Linked DNA regions of Homo sapiens. The protein of the gene in region 1 purifies or fractionates together with the protein of each later gene. This does not show direct contact. Each region holds a gene or a part of one and is shown on either strand. Other genes may lie near its edges.

Region 1 (5,042 bases):
CTCCAATTCAAATCAGTTTGCGGTTTTTGAACGTACTGACTCAATTATTAGAAGATAATCTTTAATTTAAAAGGCAATGCAGATGAATTTAAATGCATCAGGTTCAATCACAGTTACTGTGCTTGACTCTCAGAATTTCAGTAAAGGAAAGTAGGCCCTGGAAATGCCACCCCCTTGGCACCCACCTCCCAGACTCCTGGCTGTGTGTCTCCTGACCACTACTCAGGTCTTGCCATTTTTATGCATCCATTACTATGAGGAAGAACCCAATTTTGTTCATTCAATGGGAGGGAGGAAGAGCTCTTGAGAACCTGGTGTGTGCTTATGCTTCATGTTCATTGTTTTACCAATTTTAGAATACCCCAATGGGGTAGGTACTTTTATCTCTCTTTTTAAAATTGGGGAGCTCGAGGCTCAGTTTGGTCATGTTGTAAGTCCCTGTGGAGTTGGGCTCCAACCCAGGTCAGTCTGTTTCCCAAAACCCTTCTGTTTGACTTTGCCGCTGAAGAAGATACAATGAGATGAAGAGTCTTGGGCATGATGGCACACAGGTCATCAGGAAGAAGGCCATCAGGAAGTTGGACTAGAGGTGGGAGGGGAGAAGGAATTAGGGGATTTGGAAATAGAGGGAAAACAGGTGAGCCTGAGGGAGGCACAGGAGCAAGGGGAGCAACAGAGCTGGCCAGTCTGTGTGTGGTGGGGCTGATGCCTGCCTGCTCACCCCTGTCCCCTGTTTTGCCAACTGTCAGGCCACAGTTGTAAGGGATCTTGTGGCTGTCAGGATGGCAGAGGAGCAGGAGTTCACCCAGCTCTGCAAGTTGCCTGCACAGCCCTCACACCCACACTGCGTGAACAACACCTACCGCAGCGCACAGCACTCCCAGGCTCTGCTCCGAGGGCTGCTGGCTCTCCGGGACAGCGGAATCCTCTTCGATGTTGTGCTGGTGGTGGAGGGCAGACACATCGAGGCCCATCGCATCCTGCTGGCTGCGTCCTGCGATTACTTCAGGTGAGTTCACTAGAGCTGTTTGTAAGAAGAATAACAAAGGTAATCCTGGCTCTGCTAGTAAAGGTACTGGCGGTGACAGTGGCTGGTCTCCTGCTCACCTCAGAGCCTCCCCTACTCCTTGTGGCTATGACTTAGTCAACAAGTGTGAGAGACAGAAGGGGGTCTTAGAGTTCATTTTTCATTCAGTGATCCTGTTTCTTGGGCTTTGCCTCCTCTTCTCTTCCCTCTCTTCTCTTCCTTTTCTTTTCCTTTTCTCTCTCTTTTCTTTTCTCTTTTCTTTCCTCCTTTCTCTCCTCCCCTCCCTTACCATTCCTCCCCTCCGTCAGTAATTATTGCTGTGTATGCATCACCTTCTGGCTCACACCTCTCATCCCTCAGGTGTTAGCCTCTGGCCCTCCCAGTGAGCTCTGTGGCCCCTCTGGGGTTTCTTATGGCCTCCTTCGTGACCCCATCCCAGCACTTGGCACAGTGTGAGGAACCACTGGCTTATCTGTCTTTTCCACTGGGTTGGAATCTGTCTCTTATCCCTAGCACCTGACATGGTTTTCACATATTCAAACAATACCCATGGCTTAAATGAATAAATTTATGTACACAGATAGCAGATCAATACACCATTTGCCCTGTTGTCTGCACTGCTCTGCACTCAAGGAGGTGGGTGTCACCACCCTTATTTCACATAGGTGGCATGAGCCTGAGAAGGACTGAGGGCCACTCGTGGTCCCCAGCAAGGTTGTCATGGGACTCCAAGCCTGAGGTGTTCCATTCTAGCTCTGATTCTGTTCAATCATTTTGTCTTCAAGGCTTAGTTGTAGTTCTCTCTCTCTCTCTTTCTCTTTATCTCTCTCTATTTTTTTAATTAGGAACTATCAAGCAAAATATGTATGGTTTAAGTGCCTTCTGTCTCCAAAAGGAGTTTTGGAGAATGTGACCCAGTGGTGGCTTGGTGCAGATGTGTCCAGGAGCAGCAGAATTCTTTCAGTTCACCAGGGAAATTCAGCTGAGGCCTTTAATAAGCATTAAGATAACATACAGGACAGTGGGTAGGGTAGAGGAGCTGAGGGCCCCCTGCAGGGGACTTAGGACCTGTATAGGAGAGGATGGCCAGAGGCTGTGGAGCCTATGGGATCCCCTGGGCTCACCCTCTCAGCCCTTCTTGATTTAGTGTCATACCACTCTTTCTGAAGATGACAGTGTAGGCAGCCTTTCGCTAATCTGTCAAAAACCTTATGTGGCTTTCCACGTCCTCCAGGAGCAATTTCTAGCCCTTTCCACAGCCCCCCTTGGGTAAACCTCTTATGAGAGGTGTCCTGCTCTCCGGGATGATTACAATGCATCACTAACACCCCCTGCATCCCTCCACTTCCATTGGGAAGGGGAGCGGGAGAGTGGCAACATTATTGGAAGAGCCCAGAGTCATTTCACAGGGGGGTGTGTGTGTGTATGTATAAATAAGAAATAGAGGCCAGTCACGGTGGCTCACACCTGTAATCCCAGCACTTTGGGAGGCCAAGGCAGGTGGATCACTTGAGGCCAGGAGTTTGAGACTAGCCTGGCCAACATGGTGAAACCCTGTCTCTACTAAAAAAAAAAAAAAAAATTAGCTGGGTGTAGTGGTGGGCGCCTGTAATCCCAGCTACTTGGGAGGCTGAGGCAGGAGAGTTGCTTGAACACAGGATGCGGAGGTTGCAGTGAGCCGAGATTGTGCCACTGCATTCCAGCCTGGGTGACAGAGCAAGACCCTGTTTCAAAAAAACAAAAAAGAGGCTGGATGTAGTGGCTCACGCCTGTAATCCTAGAACTTTGGGAGGCCGAGGCGGGTGGATCACCTGAGATTAGTAGTTCGAGACCAGCCTGGCCAACATAGTGAAACTCCGTCTCTGCTAAAAATACAAAAACTAGCGGGGCGTGGTGGCACATGCCTGTAATCCCAGTTACTTGGGAGGCTGAGGCAGGAGAATCACTTGAACCCAGGAGGCGGAGGTTGCAGTGAGCCTAGAAAGAGGCCAGGCTTGGTGGCTCACTCCTATAATTCCAGCACTTCGGGAGGCCAAGGAGGGCGGATAACTTGAGGTCAGGAGTTGGAGACCAGCCTGACCCACATGGCAATACCCTGTCTCTACTAAAAATACAAAATTAGCTGGGCGTGGTAGCACATGCCTGTAATCCCAGCTACTCAGGAGGCTGAAGCAGGAGAATTGCTTGAACCCGGGAGGCGGAGGTTGCAGTGAGCCGAGATTGCGCCACTGCATTCCAGCCTGGGCAACAAGAATGAAACTCCGTCTCAAAAAAAAAAAAAAAGAAAAGAAATAGACCATTCCCAAGTGTTAGCATGTTTATTATTTGTTTTAGTTACTTGTGAAATGTTAAAATGATAAAGGACTATTTTTTTCCCAGTATGACTGGTAAATATGTGTGAGAGGCTTGTAATATTTGATATGGGCAAGGGTAGAGAGAAGGGCATTTAGGGGTGGGCTGGCCCATAGTTTAGGGCCCTGCAGTTGTATGTTGGGTGTCTAGGTGTCATTCCTGTGGGACGATGCACCCAGTGCTGAGACATGGTGCAGGACAGAGCCTTTCTGTGTTATCCAATGGAGCTACTTGCAAACTGGGCAGTGTGGTGTGTCTACTGATAGGGAGTGAAAAACCTCAGGACCTGGTGGAAGATGATCCCAACCATGAAGATCTGGAAGGATCTTGCTGCACCGTGGGGACTCAGCAAAGGGCAAAGGGAGAGGGAGGCTGAATTTCTTCTGTTTACTGCATTGTCTGAATTATTTTACAAAGAACATAAATTTCTTTTTTTTTTTTTTTTTTTGAGACGGAATCTCACTCTGTCACCCAGGCTGGAGTGCAGTGGTGTGATCTCGGCTCACTGCAACCTCTGCCTCCGGGTTCAAGCAATTCTCCTGCCTCAGCCTCTCGAGTAGCTGGGACTACAGGTGTGCGCCACCACGCCCGGCTAATTTTTTGTATTTTTAGTAGAGACAGGGTTTCACCATGTTGGCCAGGCTGATCTCGAACTCCTGACCTTGTGATTTGCCCTCCTTGGCCTCCCAAAGTGCTGGGATGACAGGTGTGAGCCACACCACGCCCAGCCTTTTGTTTGTTTGTTTTGAGATGGAGTCTCGCCCTGTCCCCCAGGCTGAAGTGCAGTGGGGCAATCTCGGCTCACTGCAACCTCTGCCTCCCGGGTTCAAGTGATTCTCCTGCCTCAGCCTCCTGAGTAGCTGGGATTACAGACGTGTGCCACCAAACCCGGCTAATTTTTGTATTTTTAGTAGAGGCGGGGTTTTGCCATGTTGGCCAGGCTGGTCTCCAACTCCTGACCTCAGGTGATCCGCCTGCCTTGGCCTCCCAAAGTGTTCGGATTACAGACGTGAGCCACCATGCCTGGCCTCTTCTCTGCCTTTTCTGTCCTGTGGAAATTTTTCTTCTTTGGCCCACCTGAGATGCCTCCTCCTCTGGAGAGCTTTCCCTAATTGTCCCTTGCTGTTTCCCAGGTGGAGGAATCTCAGTTTTCCTGAAGGGCAGAGAGCTGTACTGCCCTGCTGCAGGAAGCCTCCTGTGCTCTTTCTGTGTACTCTGTACATGGTTTAGGAATTGGATGGCCAGACTGCATTTTCTTTTTTTGACTTTTGTTAATAACTTTTCATTGCACACTTACTTTGGCTCCCCTGACCCTACACCCACCTTGTATGCTTTAACCTTGTATGCTTCTGAGGTGGTTTCTCCTCTCCTCCTGGACCCTTATAGTCTGAAGAGCCCAAAGGCTCTGTCCTTTTTATACAACCTCCATGGGTCACCTCGTCCCTCCCTTAGTTTTCATTCCATCTGTGAATTATAAAAGACTGCTTAGCTGAACTCAATGTCTGTTACTTTAAAAGTTTGGATACAATTGATGATTTTATTTTTAAAAAATTAATAGCACTTTATCCCCAAAAGAGAGAGAAAGTTGTATTCCCCACAAAACACAAAGCCCAGATGTTTTCCAGGGTAGGTGTGCCTTTTATGAAAAGACTCCAATGCCATT
Region 2 (5,042 bases), on another chromosome or scaffold:
TAAGTGTTTACATGGATGTTTGCTTTCTAACTTGCATTATTTAGCCTTTGATGATCCAAGGAGGAAAGATTCTTGTATAAGAAACACTTATACACATATATATAAGTGTTTATATGGATGGTATCTTTTGGGTAGACACCCAGGAATGAAATTGCTGGGTCATATGTAATTTTTTTTTTCTTTTTTTTGAGATGGAGTCTTGCTCTGTCACCCAGGCTGGAGTGCAGAGGCGTGACCTTGGCTCACTGCAACCTCCACCTCCTGGGTTCAAGCGATTCTCCTGCCTCAGCCTCCTGAGTAGCTGGGATTACAGGTGCACACCAACATGCCCGGCTACGTTTTTGGTATTTATTTTTAGCACAGATGGGGTCTTGTCACGTTGGCCAGGTCGGTCTCGAATTCTTGACCTCAGGTGATCCGCGCCCTCAGCCTCGTTAAGTGCTGGGATTACAGGCGTGAACCACTGCGTCCAGCCCACATGTAATTTCTGAGGGACTACTAGACTATTTCCAAAGTGGCTGCACCATTTTACATTCCCATCAGCAATATCGGAAGGGTCCACTTTCTCCTCACCTCACTAACACGTTATTATCTATCTCTTTTAAGTTACAGCTGTCCCAGTGTGCAGGAACTGGTATCCCATTATAGTTTCACTTTGCATTTCCATAATGACTAAGAAGGTTGAGTCCCTTTCCATAAGCTTATGGGCATTCATGTATTTTCTTTGGTGAAATCCTATTCAAATCCTTTGTCCGTTAAAAAGTTTTAAAATTTATTTAAAAAAAAATTTTTTTTTTGATACAGGGTCTGTAGCCCAGGCTGAAGTGCAGTGGCACAATCTCAGCTCACTGCAACCTCTGCCTTCCAGGTTCAAGTGATTCTCGTGCCTCAGCCTCCCAAGCAGCTGAGATTACAGGCATGTGCTACCACACCTGGTTAATTTTTGTATTTTTTGTAGAGATGGGGTTTCACCATGTTGCCCAGGCTGGTCTCAAACTCCTGATCTCAGGTGATCTGCCCACCTTAGCCTCCCAAAGTAGCTGTGAGCCACTGCACCTGGCCTAAACATTTTTTAAACGTATTTTTTATTGTGGTAAAAAAAACACGTTAACATTGAATTTACCATCTTACCCATTTTTATGCAGTGTCCAGTATATTTACACTGTTATGCCACAGATCTCCAAAACATTTTCATTTTGTAAAACTGAAACTCTATACTCAATAAACACCAATTCCGTATTCCCTCTCTGCCCAGCTCCCGGCAACCACCTTTCCACTTTCTGTTTCTATGATTTTGGCAACACTGGATACTTCACATAAGGAGAATGATACACTATTTGTCCTCTTATTTCACTTAGCATTACATCCTCCTCAATGTTCACCATATTGCAGTATAAGACAAGACTTCCTTCTTTTTTGGAGGCGGGGGATGAAGTCTCGCTCTGTTGCCAGGCTGGAGGGCAGTGGCGCGATCTCAGCTCACTGCAACCTCCACCTCCCGGGTTCAAGTGATTCTCCTGCCTCAGCCTGCTGAGTAGCTGGGGCTACAGGTGCACGCTACCACGCCCAGCTAATTTTTGTATTTTTAGTAGAGACGGGGTTTTGCCATGTTGGCCAGGCTGGTCTCAAACTCCTGAGCTCGGGTGACCAGCCTGCCTTGGCCTCCCAAAGTGCTGGGATTACAGGTGTGAGCCACCGCACCCAGCCCACAATTTCTTTATCCATTTATCTATTGATGGATATGTGGGTTGTTTCTACCTCTTGGCTACTGCAAATAAAGCTATGATAAACATGGGTATGCGAATCTTTTTGAGATCTGCTTTGAATTCTGTTGGATATATATCCAGAAGTGGGACTGCTGAATCACACTAATTCCATTTTCAATTTATTTTTTATTTTTGTGAGACAGGGTCTCACTGGGAGTGCAGTGGCATGATCATGGCTCACTGCAGTCTCCACCTCCCCAGGCTCAAGCAATCCTCCCACCTCAGCCTCCTGAATAGCTGAGACTACAGGCATGTGCCACCACCACGCCTGGCAAGTTTTTTTTTTTTTTTTTTTTTTTTTTTATAGAGACAGGGTTTCACCATGTTGCCCAGGCTGGTCACCAACTCCTAGCATCAAGCGATCCTCCTGCCTTGGCCTCCCAAAGTGCTAGGATTACGGGTGTGAGCCACCACACCCAGCTGCTGTCTTTTCAAATTCTTTACCCATTTTTTAATTGAGTTATCTGTATTCTTATTATTGAGTTGTAAGAATTATTTATCTATTCTGAATTCAATTTGCTTATCAGACATATGATTTGCAAATATTTTATTCCAGTATATGACTTGTCTTTTTAATTAAATTTTTTTTTTTAGTATCACTGAAAGTAAGGCAATTTTTTGTTTTGTTTTGAAACAGTCTGCTGTCACCCAGGCTATAGTGCAATGGGGTGATCTTGGCTCACTACAACCTCTGTCTCCCAGGTTCAAGTGATTCTCCTGCCTCAGCCTCCTGAGTAGCTGGAACTACAGGTGCACACCGCCATACGTGGCTAATTTTTGTATTTTTAGTAGAGACAGGGTTTCACCAAGTTGGTCAGGCTGGTCTCAATCTCCTGACCTCAAGTGATCTTCCCACCTTGGCCTCCCAAAGTGCTGGGATAACAGGTGTGAGCCACCATCCCCGCCCTAATTTTTTATTTTTTTGAGACAGGGTCTTATTCTCTCCCAGGCTGAATAGTAGTACAATCATGGCTCACTGCAGCCTCCACCTTTAAGGCTCAGGTGATCCTCCCACCTCAGCCTCCCGAGGAGCTGGGACTACAAGTGTGTGCCACCATGCCCGGTTAATTTTTGTATTTTTTTGTAGAGTTGGGGTTTCGTCATGTTGCCCAGGCTGGTCTCAAAGTCTCAAACGTCTGGGCTGAAGCAATTCTCCTCCTTCAGCCTCCCCAAAGTGCTGGAATTACAGGCATGAGCCATCATGCCCAGTCTTTATTTTTATTTTTATTTTATTTTTTTGAAAAGGAGTCTCACTCTGTCACCTAGGCTAGAGCACAGTGGTGTGATCTCAGCTCACTGCAACCTCTGCCTCCTGGGTTCAAGCAATTCTCCTGCCTCAGCCTCCCAAGTAGCTGGGATTACAGGAGTGCACCACCACGCTCGGCTAATCTTTATATTTTCAGTAGAGATGGGGTTTTGCCATGTTAGCGAGGCTGGTCTCGAACTCCTAACTTCAGGTGATCTGCCCACCTCAGCCTCCCAATGTGTTGAGATTACAGGTGTGAGCCAACATGCCCGGACTTTTTTTTTTTTTTTTTTTTGAGACAGGGTCTCACTCTGTTGCCCAGGCTGGAGTGCAGTGGTGCAATCTTGGCTCACTGCAAACTCCATCTTCTGGGCTTAAGCAATTCTCTTACTCAGCCTCTCAAATACCTGGGACCTCAGGCATGTGGCATCACACCTGGCTAGTTTTATTTATTTATTTATTTTGGTAGAGGTTGGGGGTCTTACTATGTTGCCCAGGCTGGTCTTGAACTCCTGGACTTGAGTGATTCTCCTGCCTTGGCTTCCCAAAGTGCTGGGATTACAGGCATGAGCCACAGTGCACCTGGCTAGTCTTTTGCACTTCTAAAGCCTGCTGGGAGTTTGATAGGGATTCTGCTGAATCTACATATCAACTTGTGGAAAAATTGTTATTTTTCTACTCAAACTAGCAAGGAAAAAAAGAAGAAACCATTATTGACATGGTGTGTATATATGACAAAAGTAACGTTTCAGAAAAGATGATATCCAAGAAGTATGTAAACTAACCTTATGCAATATTGGTTTTGCTTTTAAAAAAAAGGTGCTTATCTTTTAGAAATATATATAGTACTGAAATATTTATGAATGAAATAGAATGCTGTCTGGGATTTAATTCCAAACAATCTGGGTTGAAGGAGTTAGGCCTAAACAAGATTGGCCATGTGTTAATTATTGAAGCTAAGAGATGGATGTGGAAGGGGAGCCCCATTATTCTCTCTAGTTTTGTATGTTTGAAAAATCTCATAATAAAAACATCAAACGAAACATTAGTGCAGTGTTAAGTCACAGTACTATCCTCAGATTTTTTTCCCTAGAATTAACACTATGGCCTAAACTAATCTATTCACAAGACTTAAAAAATCACCATTCAGTAATATACTCACCAGTAATTGCCCCATTCAATCATGGTTCCTGGCTGAAAACAGATTTAGATTTGGTTTGTTAGTTCTTCTGTGAAAAAAAAAATACAGAAATAGCAAACAGCAGTAGAAAAAACATTAAGTGACAAAACTAACTTCAAAAAACCTTTTTTTTTTTTTTTTTTGAGACAGAATCTTGCTCCGTCACCCAGGCTGGAGTGCAGTGGCTCAATCTCAGCTCCTGAAACCTCCGCCTCCTGGGTTCAAGCAATTCTCCTGCCTCAGCCTCCTGAGTAGCTGGGATTACCGGCGCCCGCCACCATGCCTGGCTAATTTTTTATATTTTTAGTAAGAGATGGGGTTTCACCATGTTGGCCAAGCTGGTCTCAAACTCCTGACCTCAGGTCACCCACCTGCCTTGACTTCCCAAAAAGCTGGGATTACAGGCATGAGCCACCACACCCAGCCAAAACTTTACTTTTTAATTTAATAGAGACAGGGTCTCACTATGTTGTTCAGGCTGGTCTCAAGCTTCCTGGCTCAAGCAATCCTCCAACCTTGGCCTCCCAAAGTGCTGGGATTACAGGCATTAGCCACTTTAATAATGCTGCTATGTGGGGCTTTCTTTCTAGTCCTCAGTAGGAAAATTTCTAGAAAGTGTTATATTATTGCCTTTTACTCTTATCATGTTATATAATTTGTTCAACAGTCACAGTGTTTATTAGCTGCTCTCCTTTAACCACAACAGATGTTACATATTGTACCTTATCCTGCACTTTAGGTCTTTCTTCTTAAAAACAAATATGTTATTTAGAAAAATATCAAATAATAAGCATTATGTGTAAGGCCATAAAAAGCAAAAGAGCTTAGCCTTGGTGACAGTGTGAGACCC
Region 3 (5,042 bases), on another chromosome or scaffold:
ATGTTCATTCTCACAGGAGGGCCTTTGCATATGCTGTTCTCCTTGCCTCAGATTCACTTGCCTACTCTGTCTACCCAGTTAATTCATCTCCATTTTTTTTTAGAGCACAGCTCAATTGCTACTTCCTCAGATAACACTTCTTTTTGAGTCTCCCAGACTGGGACATTTCCCCCTGACAAAACCCTACTTCTAAACCAACTCAACTACCTTCATTCCTGTATCTCAGCTGCCAAGTGTGGCTGAAGGAAGTCACCAATGTGTTCCATCATCCTCAAGTGCACCCTTCAAAAAAAAGTCCCGCCATCTTTTTACAAACAGCCGTAGCACTATATGCCTCTACTTCATAGCACTGACCATAATTCTAATTTAACACTTATCTCTGTGACAGCTGCCTGGTGCCTGCCTCCTCCATTTTATATCAGAAGCTCCATGAAGACAGTCTGCTTTCTCCTCAACAATGGATCCCTAGTGCTTTGCCCAGTGCCTGCCAAAGAGCTGGCTCTCAAAATGTTTCTCTCAAATGGAGTCTAAAAATTCTTTTTTTTTGGCCTACCTTTCCCAATGGAGTCTAAAAATTCTTTAAAGTGCCTTACCTTGTAAATCTTCCATCAATTCAAACATTCCAGGATAGTTAACTTGAATTTCATCAGTGTCCTATTTAAAAAGAAAAAGAAATATTCATTTGACATTCATGATACAAAATTCCAGATTTAAAAAAGAGGCCGCAGAGACTACCCAGACCAATCTCCCATGCTAAGCAAAAAATATTTACAATATTCTTCATAGATGTCATCTGGCTTATGTTTGATTTATGAAAGTCTCTAATTGCTGATTAAATATCCTGCATTGTGAGAGAAATCATCCTAAAACTCCATCATTGGTTCTAGTTCTCTCTTTGGGAACCACACAGAATAAGAGTATTCTGTACCCTACAAACCATTGCCCTCTCCTCCAAGTCTTTGAAAACCTTCAGGACACAAAAATCTGGAGATCCTTACATGTTCTGACTACATGTCCCTGGACAGTGTCAATATCAATCTTTCTTAAAATGGGGCACCTAGAATCAAAATATTTCATTCTATATCTAGTAATGCAGCCAATAGGCTTGTTTAGGAAATGAGCACATTGCTGATACATGTGGAGTTTGTTTCTCAAATGAACAATTGGGTAATGACTTCCTCTTCTTTTTGAAGCCTGATACAGGACTTAACTGTTGGTACAGTGGCAGAGACCACTGATGCTCCCCAAATATCCAGGTGCTCCTTGACACTTCCCAATCTCAAACACATATTTCTTTTGGCCAAAGAAAGGAGGGGCAAGACAGTTAAGAGCTAGAGCCTTTTCCAGGCCATCTCTTTTGCTGTGGTGATCTTATAGAACACAGGGCCAGATTATAGAACACAGGGCCAGATGGCACAGCTACAAGATGGAGATGGGCTGTCCCACCAGCACGCAGCTGTGATGTGATAAAACTTTATTGTGTTAGGCACTAAAAGTAGGGGTTTATTCTTATTGGAAACTAGCCTAAAATAATTTTTTTTTTTTTTAAGACGGATTCTTGCTGTGTTGCCCAGGCTGGAATGCAGTGGTGTGATCTCTGCTCGTTGCAGCCTCTGCCTCCTGAACTCAAGCGATTCTTGTGCCTCAGCCTCCCGAGTAGCTGGGATTACAGGCGCCTGCCACCGTGCCCAGCTAATTTTTTTTTTTTGTATTTTTAGTAGAGACGGGCTTTCACCGTGTTAGCCAGGCTGGTCTCGATCTCCTAACCTTGTGATCCACCAGCCTCAGCCTCCCAAAGTGCTGGGATTCCAAGTGTGGGCCATGGCGCCTGGCTGGAAACTAGCCTAAAATAAATCTAAACATCATTAATAGAGGACTGGTTAAACAAATTAAAGAATATGTATTCTATAAAATACTGTACAGTTCTCAAAAAATAAGGTAGATACATGTCTATAGGAAAAAAATCTCCAAGACATGTTATTGACTGGAAAAAAAAAAGCAAAAGAGTGCATGTAATATTATATAAGTAAGTTTAAATGACATAAGTGTATTCTATGGGTCTATAAAAAAAAGTGGATCTGAAACGATGTCTAAGACACAGCTAACAAATCTTTGGGGAAAGGGACCAGGGTTTGAGAAGTCAGGAGGAGGGACAGGCACGATGGCTCATGCCTGTAATCCCAGCACTTTGGGAGGCCGAGGCAGGCAGATCATGAGGTCAGGAGATCGAGACCATTCTGGCTAACATGGTGAAACCCCATCTCTACTAAAAATACAAAAAATTAGCCAGGCATGGTGGTTGGTGCCTGTAGTCCCAGCTACTTGGGAGCCTGAGGCAGCATAATCGCTTGAACCCGGGAGGCAGAGGTTGCAGTGAGCCGAGATCACGCCACGGCACTCCAACCTGGGTGAAAGAGCAAGACTCCATCTCAAAAAAAAAAAAAAAAATTGCTGGGTGTGATGGCACATGCCCTTGGTCCCAGCTATTTGGGAGGCAGAGGCATGAGAATCCCTTGAACCTGGGAGGCAGAGGTTGCAGTAAGCGGAGATCTCGCCACTGCACTCTAGCCTGGGCAACAGAGGGAGAAGTCAGGAAGAGGAGACTTCGTTTCACTTTACACCCCACTGTATCACTCTCTCTATATATACCTTACTCTTCTTTAAAAAAACATATACGTGTATCAGGTTGTGTATGCTTTTTAATGAGACCTCTAGGTAGTGAGACCATGAACATTCATCATCCATATACTTTTCCATATTAACAAGCTGTTTTTAAGAGGAGATCCTAAGATTAAAAACAAAATTCTTTCCAGGCTGTTATCTAGCCATTAAGCAATATCCTTTGAAAACAATTCTTCAGTGCAACCAACTAAAAGCACTATCTCCACTTCAATCAAAAGAATGCCACAACAGCTTTGTTGAAGGCCTTATTTAAATTAAAAGGGGACCATATCTGCACCATTTTTTTTATTTTATTTTTGAGACGGAGTCTCACTTTGCCACCCAGCGCCCAGGCTGGAGTGCAGTGGTGCGATCTCGGCTCACTGCAACCTCCGCCTCCCAGGTTCAAGCTATTCTACTGCCTCAGCCTCCCAAGTAGCTGGGACTACAGGCCATGTGCCACCACGCCCAGCTAATTTTTTTGTATTTTCAGCAGAGACGGGGTTTCACTGTGTTAGTCAAGATGGTCTTGATCTCCTGACCTTGTGATCTGCCTGCCTTGGCCTCCCAAAGTGTTAGGATTAGAGGCGTGAGCCACCGTGCCAGGCCTTGCACCATTCTCTTAAAGTACTAGTCTGGTAGTTCAGTTCTAAAACGGAAATCAGCTTTACTTAGAATGCTCATTCTCTGAAAATAATTCATTAAGATGAAAATACATTAAGATGTAAATACATCTATATGATACTAATCTGACTCGATTTCACTTTAAAAATAAAAATCCATTGTAGCGTAAAAGTAATATATCTAATGTATGCAACATAAACCTGTATAGCTGATTATACAAAAGCTTTTTTGGATGGGAATTTTTAGAAAATGAATTAGAACACATATTATTATTATTTTTTTTGGAGACAGGATCTTGCTCTGTCACACAGGCTGGAGTGCAGTGGTGAGATCATGGCTCACTGCAGCCTCAACGTCCCAGGCTCAATCCTTCCAACTCAGCCTCCCGAGTAGCTGGGACTACAGGCAGGCCCAGCTATTTAAAAAAATTTTTTTTTAGAGATGAGGACTCCCTATGTTGCCCAGGCTGGTCTTGAAATCCCAGGCTGAAGTGATTCTCTGACCTAGGCCTCCCAAAGTGCTGAGATTATGGGAGTGAACAACTGTGCCTGGCCAGGACGCAATATTAATACAGCACCTCAGAAACAAAACTGTATACATGCCTCACAGGATAAATGTAATGATTCAAGAAGACATTCTCATAACTTTCTTATTAAATCAGCAACTTTCTAATTGTATAAACTAAAGAAGATTCTACACCAATATTTTTATATTATATTAAAGTATGAGTCATTAGGCTCATTTTTAGAGAATATGGATAGTATTCTGAATTATATTTCCCAATTAATAGAAATGTAGGCTTTTAAACATTTTAACATCAGGTTAAACATTTTTAGTAGAAATCTTTCTAAAACTCATTCTTTATAACCACAGAAAACCATGTGTAGTTCACATAATTTAACTTTCTTCTGGTGATTAGCAGAAATCCCATTTTTTTCGTAATGGGCAATAACTTTTGAGTCCTGTAATATTGCTGACTAACCTGTATGACCTCGTATAAATTTTTTAACATCACCTCATGAAAATGTGCACTACACATCGCCACACCATCCCAGCCCTACACCTCCTATACTTTTTAGAGGCTTTACATTCCCGGAGATTCTTTTTTCATCTCAATGATAGGTTGGTGACACAGCAATATAGGAGACGATTCTCAAGAGGGTAGACTGTAAAGGAAATTTTTTCCATATTATAAGTAAAATAAATATTATCAAAAAGGCTTTAAATCACTGGTTCCTAATCTATTTTTAGTTATATTAGCTCTCTCAAGATCTGATGAAAACCATGGGTACTTTCCTCCATTTATGAACACCACCACCACAAATTTTGTGTACAACATCCCAGTATTATTGAACGGTCTAAAGTTTACCAACAGGCCTGCTATAAACCCAAAAACACCACGCAGGGATTTCTGTTTTGTTCACTGCTATATTTGAAGTACCTAGGATAGTACCAGACACACAGAAGGTACTCAGTAAATGTTTGTTGCAAGACTGAATACATAAATGAATTTGTATAGAAGGATATTCACTGCAGCATTGCTACTATTGGCAAAAAATCAGAACAAACCTAAAGGTCATTCACAGGTAAATAGTTAAGTAAAACTGTGGTACATTCATACTAGGAAATAATATGCGGAAATTAAGGAGTGCAAATATATCCATACCAATTTAGAAAACTATTAACAGTATATTGGAAATACATATACTGTTAATAAAAAAAGTTTCAGAAATGTGTGAATACATATGACTGTCTAT
Region 4 (5,042 bases), on another chromosome or scaffold:
TGGTCTCAAACCCCTGACCTCGTGATCCGCCCGCCTCAGCATCCCAAAGTGCTGGGATTACAGGTGTGAGCCACCGCGCTTGGCCTAATTTTTGTATTTTCAGTAGAGATGGGGTTTCACCTTGTTGGCCAGGCTGGTCTGGAACTCTTGGCCTCCCAAAGCGCTGGGATTACAGGCAAGCACCACCATGCCCAGCTAATTTTTGTATCTTTGGTAGAGACAGGGTTTCAACATGTTGGCCAGGCAGGTCTCCAACTCCTGACCTCACGTGATCTGCCCACCTCGTCCTCCCAAAGTGCTGGGATTACAGGTGTGAGCCACTGCTCCCAGCCCATTAGTGCAATTTGATGTGTGGCTTTGCCGGGCTCAGTGGCTCACATCTGTAATTCTAGCACTTTGGGAGGCCAAGGTGGGCAGATTGCTTGAGCTCAGGAGTTCAGGACCAGCCTGGGCAACATGGTGAAACCCTGTCTCTACTAAAGATACAAAAATTAGTCAGGCTGGTGGTGCGTGCCTGTAGTCCCAGCTACTCAGGAGGTTGAGGTGGGAGAATCACCTGAGCCTGGAAGGTTGAGGTGGCAGTGAGCCCTAATTGGGCCACTGCACTCCAATCCAGCCTGGACAACAGAGACCCAAAAAAACAGAAGTATCAGTCTTGTGACTTTAAGAAACTTCTGTGGCCAGGTGCAGTGGGTCACACCTGTAATCCGAGCACTTTGGGAGGCCAAGGTGGGCAGATCACCTGAGGTCAGGAGTTCCAGACCAGACCTGCCCACATGGTGAAACTCCCATGTCTACTAAAAATACAAAACTTAGCCGGGTTTGGTAGCTGGTGCCTGTAATCCCAGCTACTCAGGAGGCTGAGGGTGAAGAATCGCTTGAACCTGGGAGGCTGAGCCAAGATCACACCACTGCACTCCAGCCTGGGCAACAGAGCAAGACGCTGTCTCAAAAACAAGAAAGAAAGAAACAAACTTCTGTAATTAGAAAATGAGTCCTTCTATGGTTTAAATTTTTTTTTTTTTTTTTGAGACAGAGGCTCACTCTGTCGCCCAGGTTGGAGTGCAGTGGTGCGATCTCGCCTCACGGCAACCCTCACCTCCCAGGTTCAAGCGATTCTCCTGCCTCAGCCTCCCAAATAGCTGGACTACAAGTGTGCACCACCACACCCAGCTAATTTTTTGTATTTTTAGTAGAGACAGGGTTTCACCATGTTGGCAAGGCAGGTCTCGAACTCCTGACCTCAAGTGATCCACCCGCCTGGGCCTCCCAAAGTGCTGGGATTACAGGTGTGAGCCACTACGCTCAGCCAGGCTTAAATTTAAGTTGACAAAACTGACTGCCCCATTTGTTCCCTTGAAACCAAAGTTTCATTTAGTAAGCTGCTCTTCTCTGTCTTGCACTTTGAATTTTACAGAAAAATTACTTTTATACTGAATGGTAATGTGATAAAAATGGAAAGAAATCGGGCCTACAGATTTTGGATTCCAATTCTGGTTTCCCCTGTGAACTAATCTCTTAACCTATTTCCTCATTTGTAAAGTGGCAGTAATTTTATATTTTATTACAGTAACCAACACAGTGTAGATCCTCAAAAATGTTCATTTTCTTCCCCCTTATTCCCTTTTGTAAAGATGTATTTATTCTGTGTATTTCAGGTACTACATTAAACCTTCTGAAGTTTCCTATTTGCAACCCAACTCCTTACAGAATGTTTAAAAGGCATCAAAGACTTAAAAAAGATTCAACTCAAGCTGAAGAAGATCTTAGTGAGCAAGAACAAAATCAGCTTAATGTCCTCAAAAAGCATGGTTATGTCGTAGGTAAGCATCCTCTATGGGAAAACCCTCGTTGGTACTATGCTAAAATTCTTTGTTAAGCAACCTGAAATACAGCTGTCCGAGGCTAGCCAGTTTTTGTGGGGAGAGACTGCCTTCCTTATTCTGCAACAAAGAGGCCCTTTAGCGATAAGGCTACTGTTTGGAAACCCAGAGCAGTACAGGTAGTAAAAGTTTTTACTCCATGCAGCAGCTTTAGATTAGGTTGTCTGTCTTTCCTTGGTATATCTTTTCAGCCTTTCTTTAAAACAGTCTGATTTCCACACACCCTTGCCCCCGCCACTCCATGTACACAGCCAGCCACACGCTTGATTATTGCAAGAGTTGACTCCCACTGCTTTTTGGAAAAAAAAAAAAGCAAAAGTATCATTATGGTCTCACTTCCCTACACTGTAATCTTAGTAACTTGTTTGAGGGAAACATAAAAATTATGTCTGGAGTTAAAAGTATTAAAGGAGTGACTAATAACCTTACTATAACTTGTTCTAGGAAGAGTTGGAAGGACATTCTTGTATTCAGAAGAACAGAAGGATAACATTCCCTTTGAGTTTGATGCTGATTCACTTGCCTTTGACATGGAAAATGACCCTGTTATGGGTACACACAAATCCACCAAACAAGTAGAATTGACTGCACAAGATGTGAAAGATGCCCACTGGTTTTATGACACCCCTGGAATTACAAAAGAAAATTGTGTATGTATTTGGTTTCTTTTAGAAACATTTACTTTCTTTTTCTTTTTTAATGGGTTTATATTGCCTGCTGCCCAGATACAGCCAATTTATCAAGACAGGGGAATTGCAATAGAGAAAGAGTGTAATGCATGTAGAGCCAGCTAAATGGGAAACTGGAGTTTTATTACTAGTCATATCAGCCTCAGAAACATTTACTTTCAATTGCACAAGTACTGCTGTCTTAATTGGCAGAAAACAGGAAAAGAAGTATACTTCCATTTTAGACTCAGTTCTGATTCATTCATGAAAGCTGTTTAGGGGTGAATCTGTATGCCATCAAGTTCTGTGTTCCATTTGATAGACTTCATTGCTGACAACCAACTTATTTTATCATTGTGATTGTTACCTTGGTTAGGGAAACGTTTACAGAAGCCTAGGTTTTGAGGTTGGAAAAACACATAAATATCACTGGAGTCCAACTCCCTAGTCCCTGCTTGAATTACCTCTGTAACATATCCATCAAGGGGTCCTCCATCTTGAACTGAAAGGAGTGACTCACCAAAGCTGAAACTGTCATGTCACCTTCCAAGGTAACTCATTTGGGTCTTTGACCTTCTCTTTGTATTGAGTGTACTGAGCTGAATAGTCTCCCTGTAACATGTATCCATTGTTCCCCAAAGCCATCTGGGACTAAGGTAATACCTATTTCCCTTGCCAGACAAATATTTTAAAATGTAACGTCCCATCTCTTCTTCACCTATCCCTCCCTTTTCTTCTCTTTCATTACTTCATCCAGCAAACGTTGAGCATTCACTGTGCCCACAATCTGGATTATTTGTCTTCATTTCCTACAGCTGTGCTGTAGGAAACAGGCTATTCATTGGCCCAGGCCTCTTCAGAATGTTTTCTATGTTTGTTCTTAAAGTGTGACACTGAGAACTCAGTGCTCTCAGGTGAGCATGATTTAGAATAGCATTAACTCCGACCGGGCGCAGTGGCTCACGCCTGTAATCCCAGCACTTTGGGAGGCCCAGGCGGGCAGATCACAAGGTCAGGAGATCGAGACCATCTGGGCTAACACGGTGAAACCCTGTCTGTACTAAAAATACAAAAAATTAGCCAGGAGGTAGTGGGCACCTGTAGTCCCAGCTACTCGGGAGGCTGAGGCAGGAGAATGGTGTGAACCCGGGAGGCGGAGCTTGCAGTGAGCTGAGATCGTGCCACTGCACTCCAGTCTGGGTGACAGAGCAAGACTCTGTCTCAAAAAAAAAAAAAAAAGAATAGCATTAACTCCACCTGTCTTGTCCCTATGCCTCTCTTTTATCCAATTGCTCATGGACAACTTTGGGCCTCATAGGTAACTTTGACTTTGTCTTGTTAAATTCAGCCTATATCTTACTCTGTTAAATATTCATTCAATCTCATTACTTTTTATATTTGCAGTTTGGATCTTCATTCAGATCATTGATTGACTCAAATGTGCATCCAGGATACAGCCTCACAACAGATTCATTAATCATTTCCTTCGAATCTGGTTACTGACCAGTTTCCGATTTTCTAATTATCTCTGTATCTCCCTACAAAACCACATTGGTTTCTTAGGTACTTTTCTTGGCCTCATCAGGAACACTTATAGTTACATTCTCAGAATTGTATTCTATTTGGTGTCCCCTGTCATTGAATCATACACACCTTTTAAATTTTATTGCTCTCCTGGAATAATTGCTCATGCCATCTTTTCTTCCTTAGCAGTCCAAAAGTTCAGAGCTGCTTTCTAATAATATTCTGTCACTTTAGCTTAATGAACTAATTCTTCCCCCACCATACTTTTTTTTTTTTTTTTTTTTTTTTTTGAGATGGAGTCTGACTCTCTTGCCCAGGCTGGAGTGCAGTGGCGCAATGATCTTGGCTCACTGCAACCTCTGCCGCCTGGGTTCAAGCGATTGTCCTGCCTCAGCCTCTCGAGTAGCTGGTATTAGAGGCATGTACCACCACACCCAGCTACTTTTTGTATTTTTAATAGAGACAGGGTTTCGCCATGTTGGCCAGGCTGGTCTCAAACCCCTCACCTCAGGTAATCCACCCACTTCAGCCTCCCAAAGTGCTAGGATTGTGGATGGGAGCCACTACGCCCAGACTAATTCTTCCCTTTCAGATGCTATTAGATCAGGCATAGCAGTTACTTCAGTCATATATCCTCTATTAAATAGTTGTGTCAGAAAGGCAAGAATTTGCAAAATACTCTAGACAGCAGAATGAGAACCCCAAATTTTTAGATATAAACGTCTGTCAGCACTGGTAGTTTGCTTCTCTGTTAGTTTACAGATAAACTTATTTGATGTCTTAAACCAGGGTTTCCCAGACTGAACCAAGGATCTCTGTTGTGAAATGAAAGTATTAAGACTCAGGCTGTGCACAGTGCCTCACACCTGTAGTCCCAGCACTTTGGGAGGCCGAGGTGGGAGGATTGCTTGAGCCCAGGAGTTTGAGACCAGCCTGGGCAACATGCCAAAACTGTATCTCTACTAAA

The links. The genes of interacting proteins can lie anywhere in the genome.
Region 2: the proteins of KLHL22 (region 1) and NIPSNAP2 purify together in Homo sapiens (co-immunoprecipitation; 4 studies listed by BioGRID and IntAct, with this or other methods). This does not show direct contact.
Region 3: the proteins of KLHL22 (region 1) and NDUFAF5 purify together in Homo sapiens (co-immunoprecipitation; 3 studies listed by BioGRID and IntAct, with this or other methods). This does not show direct contact.
Region 4: the proteins of KLHL22 (region 1) and NOA1 purify together in Homo sapiens (co-immunoprecipitation; 3 studies listed by BioGRID and IntAct, with this or other methods). This does not show direct contact.

The regions. Positions count from the first base shown.
Region 1 is NC_000022.11:20,484,952-20,489,993, reverse strand, and holds part of KLHL22 (kelch-like protein 22), read left to right. Parts: exon of another isoform or gene 1-163; coding exon of another isoform or gene 164-226; intron 227-749; coding exon of another isoform or gene 750-782; coding exon 783-1,009; intron 1,010-5,042. UniProt on the Homo sapiens protein: Substrate-specific adapter of a BCR (BTB-CUL3-RBX1) E3 ubiquitin ligase complex required for chromosome alignment and localization of PLK1 at kinetochores.
Region 2 is NC_000007.14:55,984,011-55,989,052, reverse strand, and holds part of NIPSNAP2 (protein NipSnap homolog 2), read right to left. Parts: intron 4,207-5,042; coding exon 4,175-4,206; intron 1-4,174. UniProt on the Homo sapiens protein: Protein involved in mitophagy by facilitating recruitment of the autophagy machinery required for clearance of damaged mitochondria.
Region 3 is NC_000020.11:13,804,454-13,809,495, reverse strand, and holds part of NDUFAF5 (arginine-hydroxylase NDUFAF5, mitochondrial), read right to left. Parts: intron 655-5,042; coding exon 594-654; intron 1-593. UniProt on the Homo sapiens protein: Arginine hydroxylase that mediates hydroxylation of 'Arg-111' of NDUFS7 and is involved in the assembly of mitochondrial NADH:ubiquinone oxidoreductase complex (complex I, MT-ND1) at early stages. May also have methyltransferase activity.
Region 4 is NC_000004.12:56,970,639-56,975,680, reverse strand, and holds part of NOA1 (nitric oxide-associated protein 1), read left to right. Parts: intron 1-1,658; coding exon 1,659-1,823; intron 1,824-2,327; coding exon 2,328-2,533; intron 2,534-5,042. UniProt on the Homo sapiens protein: Involved in regulation of mitochondrial protein translation and respiration. Plays a role in mitochondria-mediated cell death. May act as a scaffolding protein or stabilizer of respiratory chain supercomplexes. Binds GTP.